Linked DNA regions of Homo sapiens. The protein of the gene in region 1 interacts with the protein of each later gene in a pairwise test. Each region holds a gene or a part of one and is shown in the gene's direction. Other genes may lie near its edges.

Region 1 (3,500 bases):
GTGGATTAGGCCACTAAAACAAATTCCCAGTCACTCCGACTCTGTGAGGTTACTTAAATAAATCCACAGTGGCCGGGCACCGTGGCTCACGCCTGTAATCCCAGCACTTTGGGAGGCCAAGGCGGGTGGATTACACGAGGTCAGGAGTTTGAGACCAGCCTGGCCAACATGGTGAAACCCTGTCTGTACTAAAAATGCAAAAATTATCCAGGCGTGGTGGTGGGCGCCTGTAGTCCCAGCTACTCGGGAGGCTGAGGCAGGAGAATCGCTTGAACCCAGGAGGGGGAGGTTGCAGTGAGCCAAGATTGCACCACTGCACTCTGGCCTGTGTGACAGAGTAAGACCTGTCTCAAAATAATAATAATAATAATCCACAGTAAAATACAATCATTTCAGTCACTTTGACCATTTTACGAGTCTGTTTTAAGGACTGACTGGTTGATTCCATGTTTGCTTCAAAATTGCCAGTTTAATCAGGGACTATTGGTAGGATTGCCCACAGACCACTTTTACAACAGGTAATTCAATCAGTTTAAATATTGTATTTCCATTTTTTTTCCATCTGTTTTTGCAGCGCCAGCCAGCCTTTGACACCTTTGATGGGTCCCTGTTTGCTGTTTTTCCTTCTCTAAATGAAGAGCAAACACTGCAAGAAGTGCCAACAGGCTTGGATTCCATTTCTCATGGTAATTGGTTCCTCAGACTTGACAAATTGTGCATGATTTTCCTAAGTAGTTCAGTTAATAAAGAGATGACAGTTCCTAAGTGAGAAATGTTGGTATCTGGAATCTTTGATATGAATAGCCAGAAGTTCTGGACCTGGGAGAAGGCAGTTTTTCATTTGTATCAACTTGGTGATTCTGATGTGGATTCTGATGTCTTGAGTGCCAGACGCCCCCCAGTGAGCCGCTGTTAGGAAACTGCAGGGGAACCCCTGAGCTGCCCCTCCTGGATGTTTTCAACATTGGCAAGCAGGTCCTCATCTCCCTGCTCTGCCCTGGAAAACAGACAGAAGAGTAGACATTAAAACACACCCAAACTTGTAATTTGGGTTTGCATCATTAGTTAAATCATCTCCCCTGCCCTGAGTTTTGGGGCAACAAATTGTTCTTTGTAATCCTTACCCATCGGTAGTTCTTTCTGTAGTTCTTCGTGTCATTGTTTATTCTTCTTAAAGGAATAGCACGTCAGATAATGTTCATACAATTACTGTGACAGAGCTATTAGTTGGAAACATGCCAGAGATGACTGTGTCATGTGAAGTAGGTGCTGAGAATACAGGCCAGAAAATTAATTAAAACGCATACACTGGCGTAAGCATAACCCTGCATGGCAGCCATTTATCATTCTTGAAATTGCTGAGGGTGTCTGGAGAAGATTGTTTTTCAATAAAAATGGAAGGTGTGGTTCCATTACCGTGCTAAGTGCGGCACATTCATATCACACTCACTTCTCAGCTCTACGCCTAGTTTAATGGAAGTGACTTCCAAATGATACAGTCCCTTCAGCCTTTTGACCAGAAACCATGCAACTGTTTTCATTGCCTACAATTTTAAAATAGACTTAGCAGTTTTCCCTACGCACAACTGCTTTGTGACGCTTTGCAAAATAGAATCAAATCTGAGTTTTATTTTAGATTTTTTTAATAAGTATAGTTCTGAGATATATATTTTCTCAATTATAGTCAGAAAAGTTTTTTGTTAATAGTTACACTGTTTTAAGGAATCATGCCAAGGTTTGAGATCAAAATTGTTCTTTTCCAAAAACTAAGATGTCTCTCCTAAATCTCCACCTGATATCACCAACTTGAAGTCCTAATGTCCCCATGGGGGGTTTCCTTCCAGACTCCGCCAACTGTGAATTGCCTTTGTTAACCCCGTGCAGCAAGGCTGTGATGAGTCAAGCCTTAAAAGCTACCTTCAGTGGCTTCAAAAAGGAACAGCGGCGCCTGGGCATTCCAAAGAGTAAGTACTGCTTTCCTGAGCCTGCACTGGGTGAGAAGAACCAACTTCAGTGCAGTTGTTTGATCTTGACTTGTTTATTAAGCTTTTGCTTGGGGTATTCTGCAAAGAGTAGCATGGATGTCGTTAACCTGAGCCAGTTTCTGTTTCACCCCAATCAACCCAAGACTTGATCCAGAACTCATTAAATATGTAGTAGAAGGACGCATTACTGGTGTCTTGAAATGTGCCTGGGTCGTGTCAGAATGGTGACGTGTCATCATGGTATCTTGCTCATTCGTGGGTTCTGGTGTATGTCGGTACTTGGTGCATAAATTAGGGATGACAGTGGTCTCACTACCTTTCCACTGTTTTTACCTCATGTGTTCCATTTTTTCTTCTCTCCTGGTAGACCCCTGGCTGTGGAGTGAGCAACAGGTATGCCAGTGGCTTCTCTGGGCCACCAATGAGTTCAGTCTGGTGAACGTGAATCTGCAGAGGTTCGGCATGAATGGCCAGATGCTGTGTAACCTTGGCAAGGAACGCTTTCTGGAGCTGGCACCTGACTTTGTGGGTGACATTCTCTGGGAACATCTGGAGCAAATGATCAAAGGTACCAGCTGAACGTCTTACTTCTCCTTGTCCAGGATGAGCTGTGGCCGGGAAGACTGATTGGGAAAGTCACGTGGGTGTTCTTCAACCTTAGGGTTGCCACTTGAAATGACATAGAGTACCTTGCCTCAAAATGCCACTCAAGTGAGTCAGATATATGGCAGTGATTATAGATTTTTATCCCACTTTATGTGAGTGTGTGTGTGTGTGTGTGTGTGTGTGTATAGCATCAAGTATAGCCACAAGGTAGTAGCCTTAGTCACTAAATTGTTTGCTATTGCTGGCTGTATTCATCACGGGAGTCCATGTTGACTCAGATATGTAGGACAGCAAGAATTCCCACGTCTTCTGAGCTCACCTTACAGAGCTAAGAGATATGGCAGCCTTAATGAAAGGGGGGAGCCTTTACTCACATAAACCCTGTGAATTCTACTGTAAATTTTCCTACATCCAAATGGAATGTATTTTGGATGTTGAGGATTGTTGAGGGGGCGGGGTCTGTTTTTAAACAAGTGAGAAATTGATATATATTTACACGCTATCATATTGTACAGAAACTGGCCATTGATCAGTAGAAATCTCACCAAATACAGAGAAAGTCTTGATTCAAAACTTAAAATAGCAGGGAGACCAATGTTTAAAACATGTTGAGTTAAAAAAGAAAAGAGGGCCAGGTGCGGTGGCTCACACCTGTAATCCCAGCACTTTGGGAGGCGGAGGCGGGCAGATTACTTGAGGTTAGGAGTTCAAGACCAGCCTAGCCAATATGGTGAAACCCTGTCTCTACTAAAAATACAAAAAATAAAAATATTAGCTGGGCATAGTGGCACATGCCTGTAATCCCAGATACTCGGAAGCCTGAGGCAGGAGAATCCCTTGAGCCCGGGAGGCAGAGGTTGCAGTGAGTCGAGATCACACCACTGCACTCCAGCCTGTGGGAGTGAGACT
Region 2 (3,500 bases), on another chromosome or scaffold:
TATTTTTCTTATTGTTAGAAGTTTTAGGAAAGGGAAAGGCTCAAGATAATCCAGATATAAAAAGGTATAAATACCTGTTTAGAAGACAGCATGGTAAGATGGTAAAAGTAAGGTCTCTGAAGTTCGGAAAACTGAGTTTTGAATACTGCTTTTCCAGTAATTTTTTGACTCTGGGCAAGTTATCTGACTTGCCTCAGCTTTAGTCTTCTTAATCTGGAAAATGAAAAAACTGATGGCAGCCTCAAACAGATCGTGGGGTATAATGAGTAGGAAAGTGACATGCTGAGCACTGTATACAGATGCATGTATGTTAGCTAGATAACAGTGGAGGCAGCGGGTCCAATTTTGTGGGGGCTCTTGCTTTAGTACGGGTAAAAGACTCAGTGAAGGTGAAGCCAGTAGGCATACAACTTTTGGGTTATGGGAAGAAGAGGTGCCAACTCCAAGACCAAAGTTTCAGGCTCAGGCAGAATCTGTTCTAGACCTTTCTTCCCTACTTACTCTCCCTGGACAATTTCATGGCTTCCATTTATATATTGATGACTCCCAAAGCTAAACATCCACCTCACCCCTCTCTCCTGAGATCCAGTCCTAGCCTATGTAGCAAACCTGCTGGATATCTCATGGGCCTCTCAAACTGTTCTTTTAGCTATCCTCAAGCTTTCCACAGCAAAAGGAGCTATATTCTCTCATAATAGTTGTTCAAAGGCTCTCACATATAAAACTCTGGTCCCAGACCTTCATGGCTTTGCCTTCCTTTAACTACATTGTATCCTGAGGCCTAGAATAGGACTATGAGCTGGGACTGTGTGATTTTTTTTCCATGGCACTGATGTTGGTAATTATGGGCTTAGACACTTATTTAAGTAGATGCTTATAAATGTCTAAGCCCGTAATTACCAACATGAGTGCCATGAAATTGAATCTAAGACACTTAAGTTCAATTCAAGAAACCTTTCCTAGGCACCCTTTCTGTGCAAGACCTATGCATGATGCTGGGCAGACAGAAGAATCAGATATGGCCCCTGAGACTGCCTGAAGGCAGTTGACATGGACTGGGATAGCATTTGAAATCATTGTTGATCACCAGCCTTGGAATCAGACAATCCTGGGTTTGAATCACTGTTAATAGTTTTGCGGTATGAGTGAATTCCTAACTTATTTAATTTTGAGTTTCTTCATCTGTGAAATGGAGATAATGATATATCTCAGTACAGTTACATGAAGTTTAAATGAAAAAAATGCGGGTAGTCTAACAAATGATGCCTTTCATTATATTCAGGAAGTAATCACGATTCCTTATGAGATGTCCTCCTGTTTCCTCAATATGGATTATATCAAGACCACCTTCTGGTTTAAAGAAAGCCTCCTATGAGTATAGAGAGTAAATGGCGAGGATAAGGAACATTCCACAGAACAAAGGGAAATGGCTAAGGCTGCATAGATTCCAAACCACAGCTTTGCCAGCACTGTGTTCAAACCAACTGACTTAGTTATGAAATCCTGGAAAACTACCACCTATTCATAGTACCCCTTGGGTAAATAATTTAGGCTCTCTGAACCTAAGGCTCCTAATCTGTGCAATGGGAGAGAAGAGTTTGGAAATATTCCCACCTCATAGAATAATCATGAGGATTACCCATGAACATGTTATTTTATGTGTACCTGGCACAGTGTTGTTGGTGTATGTGAGTTCTCTCTGATTATACCTACTCTTCCAAAGAGGAAGGACAAATGCGTCCCTAGTCATCAGAGCTGATCTAACAGAAAGAACAGGGAGATTGGAGTTGTAAGTTTTGGATCTAGTCATTTGTTCATCATTCATTCGCTAAAGACTTAAGCATCTACTCAGTGCCCTACCCTGTGTTAGGTCTTATTAGGGATATAGAGCAAGTAATAACACCATTGTCCCCTGTTCTTATGGAAATGACACACTCCTGGGGAGGCAAGCACCAGTGGCATGTAAAATGTAAACTTACTTGAAACTTACAAGAGGGCCATGTGCTGCTCTGTGTTTGGATCCAAGTGCATTAACAACTTTAGGAGCTAGAAGGGAGAGGTGACTAGGCTTGAGCACCCAGAGAGAGGCAGCTTACTGCAGGAGGAGGGGCACAGGATGGACTTTACTAAATGGGATCATCTTATTCCTCCACTAATTAATGAAGTGGCCTTGGGCAGGTTACTTCACTAATCATGGCCTCAGTTTCATCATCTCAGAAAAGAATTTCAGTATTTTTGTGCTTAATTGTATAGGGTAGATTTTGAGAATCAACTTTAAAAATGGATAGAAGAATACACTGAAAACTTTTGAATCCTGCGTAACTGGGGTAAGAACCACAGGATGTAATGACCAGAAGAACTTTCAAGCCCATTCCTTTATTTTATAAATAGAGAATCTGAGGCTGAGAAAATCTGCTGTCTCTACTTATGGGGGCTCTGGGTCTCATATCCTTTAGTCTCCTTAGGGATCTTCTTTATCAGTCATCGCTGTTCATTCTCAATCATTGTCGCATTAGTTACGAGCTTACAGTGTTCTGTAAGACAGTATGAGAAAGTGCTTAGTACAATGCCTGGCACATGCTTAAGTGCTCAGATGGTAACTTATTATTGTAATAATACATTTTGAATCCTTAACATAGCTTACAAAATCCTTAATGGTTTGGCCCCTGCTTACCTCTCCAGCCTTATTGTTAACCACTCTCATAAGCACCATGCCAAGCTTCTTGTATTCCAAGCCATTTCAAGCCTTCCTTCCTTCCTGGTTCCCTCTTGGATTGTGAAGTTCCCTTTCTTATGCTCTTACAGCCCCATGTAGCCAGTTTTATCATAGGAATGACATGCTGCATTAAAATGTTGGTTTTTGTGTTTTACTCCCCTACTGGACTGTAAATCCCCTGAGGACAAGAACTGTTTCTTCTATGTGTCTCTGGCCCACAGTAAATGTACACTAAATAGGACAGAAGGAAAAAGTGAAGGGAAATGATTGGCGCAAGGTTACAATTACTTGTATTACCATCCTCAGCAAGACTTGATAATTGGGTCCAGAGTATTGAGGTGAGGTTGGAAATGGGGAGGTAGGTCCTGGGCTCCTGGAATGACCTATGAGGCTGCATAAGAGAGGGCTCTTTTAGTCGCTGAAGTTGCCTTGCTTTGATTCCTCTCCAGGGAAGTTCCAGATGCAGGTCCTACCCCAGTGTGGCCATGCAGTCCATGAGGATGCCCCTGACAAGGTGAGTCTGGTGCTCAGTGACTGTAAAAGGACAACTGTGAGAATAACCCTGGATGTCACAGAAGACAAGTCTCTGAGTCTCAGCCTGCATTGCCTGCAGCAGCTGCTGTGGAGCCTATGCAGATGCAGTTCCACCAGCTCTCCAACTTCTCCCTGGCAGCTGCTTATGGTATTGGTTTTGTGTATATGTGCTGAGGAGCTACTGACACTCTGCTATTTCATCCCAGGGCCCTGTGGTTAAGATCTTAAGCTCTACTTCTCCAATACCCCC
Region 3 (3,500 bases), on another chromosome or scaffold:
CTACCTCATAACAAGGTTTGAGGGAGGCACATCTCACACCTGAGTGTGAAAACCCAGTCATCCTGCTTATGAGCTACAAAAGGATCCTTGTATTTTTTTATAATCTGATTTTAACTCAGAATATAACAGTATACCCATATGAACCTTGTATAAAACAGGGTAATTCAATATTCCCAGCTCCTGTTCGACACAGTGGAGACCATGGGAAAAGACTATTTGTCATCAGACCTTCTAGATTCTATGACAGGCGTTTTTTGAAGTTATTGGTAAGTTTAAATTTTTTGTTGAATTAAAGTCTTTGCATGTAACAGGGAAAAAATTTTTGCCTCTTTAGAAAACATCTTTCATTTTATGAAATATTTTATTTTGTAAATTTATATTTCTTTCTGTAGAAGATACTGAGACTGTAAAGTCTGATTTGTTATTGAATTTCTCTTTAAATTAGTGAAGCTTTCCTTCTTCACAAAAGGATTTACACTAAATGGAGGTAAAACTTGAACCATTCCTTTCTTCTGAAGATTATGGCGTTTCGAAATAGAATCTGTGTTCCTATAACTAAAATATTCTTTAAATTACCAAAGAACTTGTTGAAAGACTTGCTTAAATAAAGGAGCTACATTATTTTGGGATATGATTTTATATTTATATGTTGTTCAGGAACATTTATTTCAGAGAGTAACAGGGATCTATAGTGCAATCTTAATTTAGCAATAATATAATTACATTGCTTATTTAGAATGCTGACTATATTTCTGTCTCAAGGCTCTATACGAACAAAGTAGAGGCTTAGAAAATGGGAGATTGTCTGGACCATCTGCCACGGTAGATAAAGCTCTGAATCATCATTTGAGTACTGACCTTAAAACTTTCTCTTGCCCTTCCGTTGTGTTTAATGACCTTTTTCATCTCCTTGGTTGAGCCCTTACTTTTCTTGTTATGACCAGCTCAAATCCTATTTAGTGGTAGAAATCACCCTGATGCTTTTAGACTTTTGTTCTTAACATATTATTTTCTTTCATGGCATTGCTTTACCAAAAAGTAAAATCACAGAAATCAATAATTTGGTACTGTATGCCCAATTTGGCAAGTTTATTTTATAAGAAATATGAGGAAATCATATCATGAGGATGATTTGTGTGTGGGGAGAGTTACGAAATGGTCATGAGAAACACTTTTTTTTTTATCTTAGAGATTCTACATTGCATTGACTGGGATTCCAGTAGCAATTTTCATAACTCTGGTGAATGTATTCATTGGTAAGTCACTTCCATCCCCTGCCAGCACCACCAGATTGGAAAAATTTTTAAACATATGTACATTAATATAAAAAAGAAATTATGGATATTGTAATGAAAAGCTCTTTAAATAATTAAGCATAAGCATGGCAGTTTATCTTAAAATAACCAAATCTCAATCTGAACTAAGAATTTTTTAATCCATCCTAGAACATATAAAACTATAATCCTCGGCCAGGCACAGTGGCTCACGCCTGTAATCCCAGCACTTTGGGAGGCCGAGGCGGGCAGATCATGAGGTCAGGGGTTCGAGACCAGCCTGGCTGACATAGTGAAACCCCGTCTCTACTAAAAATACAAAAAACTAGCTGGGCGTGGTGGCAGGCGCCTGTAATCCCAGCTACTCGGGAGGCTGAGGCAGGAGAATGGCTTGAACCCAGGAGGTGGAGGTTGCAGTGAGCTGAGATGGCGCCATCGCACTCCAGCCCGGGCAACAGAGTGAGACTCTGTCCCCCCCCCAAAAAAAAACTATAATCCTCTTACAAAGACTGAAAGTGTCAATGACAGTAAACATTAGATTTTCGTGGGAAATTTTGTTCAAAGTACTTCTAACACCTTGAATCCTAAAATGTTTTGTATCATAGGTATAGGGAAGACCAGAAGGAATAATATGTCTTTTATTATATCTTGTTACAGTATAGAAAAACAAAATGAGAAACTCATGGAATACCTATAAATAATGCCTTACACAGAGAGATGTCTAAAAATGTCTAACAAATGAATTGATTTTCAACCAGATTAAAGTGAATTAAAAATACTACATATCTTCATTGGTACAAATTTTTTAAAGAATCCTTTAAAACCACAAGAAGTTGGTTTCTTACTTTAATGGTGAATAATTAATTTTATAAACTCCTCATGCTAAAGTTAAACATAACCATTTTTTCTTATTAGGTCAAGCTGAACTAGCAGAAATTCCAGAAGGCTATGTCCCAGAACACTGGGAATATTATAAGGTTTGTATAGGACATTGACAATTACATACTGTTACATGCCTTGTCAACGCACTAGTTAATGTCTTAATTCAGCAATTATGATATAGTCAGGTTTTTTGTTTTGTTTTTTTTGAGACAGCATCTCGCTCTGTTGCCCAGGCTGGAGTGCAGTGGCGCGATTTCAGCTCACTGCAACTTCTGCCTCCCGCATTCAAGCGATTCTCATGCCTCAGTCTCCCACGTCGCTGGGATCACAGGTGTGTGCTGCCACTCCTGGCTAATTTTTGTATTTTTAGTAGAGACAGGATTTCACCATGTTGGCCAGGCTTTTCTGGAACTCCTGGCCTCAAGTGATCCACCCACCTCAGCCTCCCAAAGTCCTGGGATTAAATGTGTGAGCCACTGTGACCAGCCATGATAGAGTTTTATATTTCATTTTTTATATCAAGCAGATACATTTTTTTGCATACTTTTTATAAACAACGAATTTTGGTACTTCATTTTTAAAAAAATCATTTTAAGCTTTACAATTTTTTAAAGAATGATTGCAGTGTGTTCTCAGCCTAACAGAGTAACATAATTTATCCTAAGTTCAATGCCTTAGGAGAGACTTCACCAATGTTAATGCTAGCTGTCATTTATTGAGCACCTACTATGTAACAGGTACTGTGCTGAGTGTTTTACAAATATTTATTATTTCATCCCATGTAAAATGTACTATTATTATTCCCTCTTTGTAGATGAAGAAAGTGAGGCTAAAAGAGTTAAGTGACCTGTCTAGATGGGGTCACTATTTCAACCCGGGCAACTTTGACTCCAGAGCCTGAACTGTTGGTCATTATACCATACTGCCACTGCTACCAAAATCCAAAATTAATTTTGTTACTTGTTTTAACAAGTGTTATTGTGAGCCTTGAATGGAGTATATCCCATCATGTTTTATTATCTGAATGAATTATATTTTAAATACAAATCTTAAACCATTAAATCTTAAGGCAGACCTTACACTTAGTTTGTTTATGCTAACTGGTGCAAAGAGCTCCATTTTTGAATTACCAAAACCTGGGTTTGTCTTCTGAATCTGCCACCTAAGATACTCAGCATAGTGTAATGGAAAAGAGTACACAGCTTTGGAGTCAGACAGACCTGGTTTGAGTCCAGGTGCTGCCATTTATTAGCTACGTAACTTTGTGCAATTCACTTATCTTTAAAATGCGGACAAAAATAGTATCCACCTCATCTGTTAAAATTATTTTATATATAGGTATAT
Region 4 (3,500 bases), on another chromosome or scaffold:
CATATGGCTCAGGTGGGAGAGCCAGACTTTGAACCCGGACAGTTGGACTTCAGAGCCTTTGTTTTTTTTCCATGACAACATGTTGGGGCGCCTGAAGAAATCAGGCTCAAATGAAAAGGCAGTCAGGAGCTCCATGCCTCAGTTTGCTTTTCTGTAAAATGAGAGTAACAGACATGATGCCATCAGAATGTGTAAATATTAATCTGTGTAACCTGAGAACAGCACTGAGCATGTGGAAAACAGCGTGTAGGTGTTTGCCGTCAGTAGCACCCGCAGAAGACATTCTCAAGGCATCTTCTTGGCAGGCAGAGTCTGGGACCCTTTGTCCTAAACCTACCCAAGGCTGTGAAAGTGCCTGCAAATGCTTGACCTAGGTATTGCTTTTTGCTAAGCTTATGTAGGTTGCATAATAGTGTCATGAAAATCTTGTCTGAAATGCACATTTCCAGGCCCGGTCTCCTGCGATTCTCTCTCCATCAGGGGATATGCTGTTGTTTCAAAGCTCCTTTGGCTGGGTTGGGAATGGGGTATCCTGCAGGCAGACAGAGTTGAGAACCTCTGCTCTGGAATGACAGGGGAGAGAAGAAGGAAGGTGTAGTCATACATGCCGCTGTACCTTCAGGCCACCCTGTGTCCACAGTGCCAGGGAATTAGTGAGTGCTCAGTAAATAGCTCTTGTTTGCTATAGTGCCTTGGAGGTTCAATGCATCACATCAGCTAACTGAGGTAGAAGACATTCTTTCCACCTCTCAGGTCAGAAAATTGAGGCTCAGGCTGGTGACTCTTCTGTCCAGAGTCCAGTGAGTGGGGTTCTGCCCAAGGTGAGCCTCCTGAGCCCTTTCCACCCTCCAACATTGCGCTTGGAGGCCACCCACACCCTCTGGGCCCACCTTTTGAGAAGGAGCTTGTTTCCTGGATCCACCCCAGGCTGTTGTTCCTGCCTCCCTTGATGGCTGTGTGATGGAAGTACCGCGTGTCCACTTGCTTTTTATCTTTCAACTTGGAGATAGAGGCAGGCTAGATAGCGGTCTTGGCTGAGAACTTAGCCCAGGCAGGTAGGCAGAAGGGCTGGGGACACTGAGGCCCCACAGGAAGGCGGCTGCAGAGGTAGAGGGCCATGAGTAGGTGCCAACCTGGAGCCGTGTTCTCGGGGTGGGGGCCATGTGAAAAGAAACCTGGGCTCCCTCGGGTGGGGCGTAAGCCCCAGCACTACAGAATGGGAATGGATTACACAATCGGGGCCATAAGCAGGTCTCTTTGACCCAGATCTTTGACTTTCCCACCTAACATTGTTTGCAGACCTGCCTATGCCCTACCTGCCTGGGCTCCATCTCTGACCTTTTGAGTCCAGCGGGTTTTCTTGCAACTGAGCTGGTAGAAAGTGAGGCTCCTTAACAGTCTGGGGGCCTTGAGTGCCCTCCCCAGCAGTTTAATCTTTCCTTTCTTTAAATCTGTGGGGAGACTTTCTGCAGCTATACATTTTAAATCTGCATAGAGTTCTGTTTGAAGAGAGGTGGGTGGGGGCCCAGGTCTCCACCTTGTTCTCCTGCCTTCACCCTCTGCCCCACCCCCACGGAACCTAAGAAGATTCCAAGTAACCCTCTTCAAATATGGATGTGAGAGGGCCATTTAAGAGGTGGGTCTATGGCCTCTCTCAGCTGGGAATGCTTACCATCTCTCCTTCCTCCTTTTTAATCATGGAACTCTCCTCCTTTCTCCAGAAAGGCCTCCTTGGCTGTCCTCTGCTGGAGGGGAGGCTGGGTTGGGTCCTTCCTGGGACCTGTCCATGTCTCCCATGAAACCTGAGAGCCTGTCCTTAGTAGGTGTTGTGTTAGTGGTGGTGGAAAGGACATCTCCACTGATTAAGGAAGTAACTTGGACCATCTTGCATAGACAAGATCGGAGGCCCATTCCGGAGGGTGGAAACTGCAAGACCATTCTGGGGAAGGATCCTGTTAGCGTGGCTAGCATCCCATCTCGGGACAAAGGGTTCTGTATGAGGAAGCCATTTCCTCGTCCTCTGCTAACACTGGCTCCGTTTGTGTGATTTCCACAAATTATCTCAGACCATCCAGCGCAGCTCATGCCTGTCTTGCAATTTCACAAAATAATCCTCTAAGGAGACCAGTGTCCTCCTTTGGACTTCCAGTTATTCACCTCGTCCCCTCAGACGGTCGTCTTCTGTCTGCCAAACAAATTACTCGTGCTGCCAAAACTCCACTGAGAATCTCCAGGAAGATCTCGGTTGTATTGCAGAAAAGAGGTGGGCCCTGACGAGATTCCTGACACCTCCCTCTTCCTGCTGTTGTGTTTGGGACACTCTTGCTGACCTCCCTGGTGCTGTGCTCAAGTTGAACACACAGCAGTTCAGTTTCAGCTCCAGCCCCTCTGGACCCACACCCAGGGAGTGAATGCGGCTTTGGCTTGTTTGAGAGGGAGACAGTGGGGTTCACCTTCTTAGTGATCCCTTTTTCATTCCTTGAATATCAAACATCACTGATGCCTCCTGGGTTTCAGGCTCCACTGCAAAGTACAGGGGCCCTCGAGGAGTTCCTACTGTGGTTTTGTTCTCTGACATTTGTACTGTTTCCTTGATTCTGATTGCTCTGATACAGTTCCCTAACCTCTAAACTAGGGAACTTTCTTGAAGGTCCAGTGAATCCACCCATATTGTTTGCTGAGTTGATTAGTTAAGAAAGACAGTTCGTGAAGACTGCCAACTTCCTCACCCTCCCCAGGGCCTTGAGTTTCAGAAGGGCCAGAAAACACCAAGAGAGCCCATGAACTGCTTTGTAGCTTGACTTCAAAATCTCTTTGGGCAAAGAAATGACAAAGGATTGTATCCACAGTAAGGCAGGGCTATCCAGGGCCTATCTCAAGGTGGTTTTCCTTGAGGTTCAGGCAGAAATGGTGCTGTTCTCGGCAATTTTCTGGGGAAGTTGCTACAGCAAACAGCCACAGCACATGTTGATTTTTTCCCTCCTTTTAAAAATCTGTTCTATAAAGAGCACAATGTGCTGGAGAGAACACTGGCTTTCATGTGGCCTTAAAACCAGGCATGTTACAGAGGGTGGAATCTGGGCCAGTTGCTGTTGGTGACAATCGATGCTACCCTTGTCAGCAATTCCCGCCTGCTCTCCCTTTATCTGCTTCACTGAAGGCCTCCAGGGGACTGTTGTCCGCCCTCCCCCGAGGGAATGAGTGCCACACCTGCACCCACAACAAACCAGTGAGTTTTTCACCTTTCCCTCAGTAGGGAGGAATCTAGACATGTGGCCTTTGGAAGTCAAGTGGGCCTTTGTGTTTGTTTTTGAGCCTCAGGTTACCCATTTGTGAACTGGGTATAATACCCAGCCTCTCCCGGGGCAACCTCCTTGAGGAGCAAGTGAAACAGTGTGCTGAGTGAATGCTTTTCCAAAGCATTGAGTTGGCCGTCTTAGGAAGGTACTATGGGGGAGCTGAAAACAGAGAACCTTCTGGGTGTTGTGAAGGGAGAAAAG

Evidence for each region.
Region 2: the proteins of ETS2 (region 1) and PPME1 interact in a two-hybrid assay, tested with the Homo sapiens proteins (one large-scale study listed by BioGRID and IntAct).
Region 3: the proteins of ETS2 (region 1) and NDUFB5 interact in a two-hybrid assay, tested with the Homo sapiens proteins (one large-scale study listed by BioGRID and IntAct).
Region 4: the proteins of ETS2 (region 1) and NDRG1 interact in a two-hybrid assay, tested with the Homo sapiens proteins (one large-scale study listed by BioGRID and IntAct).

The regions. Positions count from the first base shown.
Region 1 is NC_000021.9:38,812,429-38,815,928, forward strand, and holds part of ETS2 (protein C-ets-2), read left to right. Parts: intron 1-574; coding exon 575-686; intron 687-1,844; coding exon 1,845-1,964; intron 1,965-2,352; coding exon 2,353-2,553; intron 2,554-3,500. UniProt on the Homo sapiens protein: Transcription factor activating transcription. Binds specifically the DNA GGAA/T core motif (Ets-binding site or EBS) in gene promoters and stimulates transcription.
Region 2 is NC_000011.10:74,247,789-74,251,288, forward strand, and holds part of PPME1 (protein phosphatase methylesterase 1), read left to right. Parts: intron 1-2,357; exon of another isoform or gene 2,358-2,534; intron 2,535-3,165; coding exon 3,166-3,230; coding exon of another isoform or gene 3,231-3,470; exon of another isoform or gene 3,471-3,500. UniProt on the Homo sapiens protein: Demethylates proteins that have been reversibly carboxymethylated. Demethylates PPP2CB (in vitro) and PPP2CA. Binding to PPP2CA displaces the manganese ion and inactivates the enzyme.
Region 3 is NC_000003.12:179,614,794-179,618,293, forward strand, and holds part of NDUFB5 (NADH dehydrogenase [ubiquinone] 1 beta subcomplex subunit 5, mitochondrial isoform 1 precursor), read left to right. Parts: exon of another isoform or gene 1-85; intron 86-177; coding exon 178-266; intron 267-1,189; coding exon 1,190-1,256; intron 1,257-2,189; coding exon 2,190-2,251; intron 2,252-3,500.
Region 4 is NC_000008.11:133,290,753-133,294,252, reverse strand, and holds part of NDRG1 (protein NDRG1), read left to right. Parts: intron 1-3,500. UniProt on the Homo sapiens protein: Stress-responsive protein involved in hormone responses, cell growth, and differentiation. Acts as a tumor suppressor in many cell types. Necessary but not sufficient for p53/TP53-mediated caspase activation and apoptosis.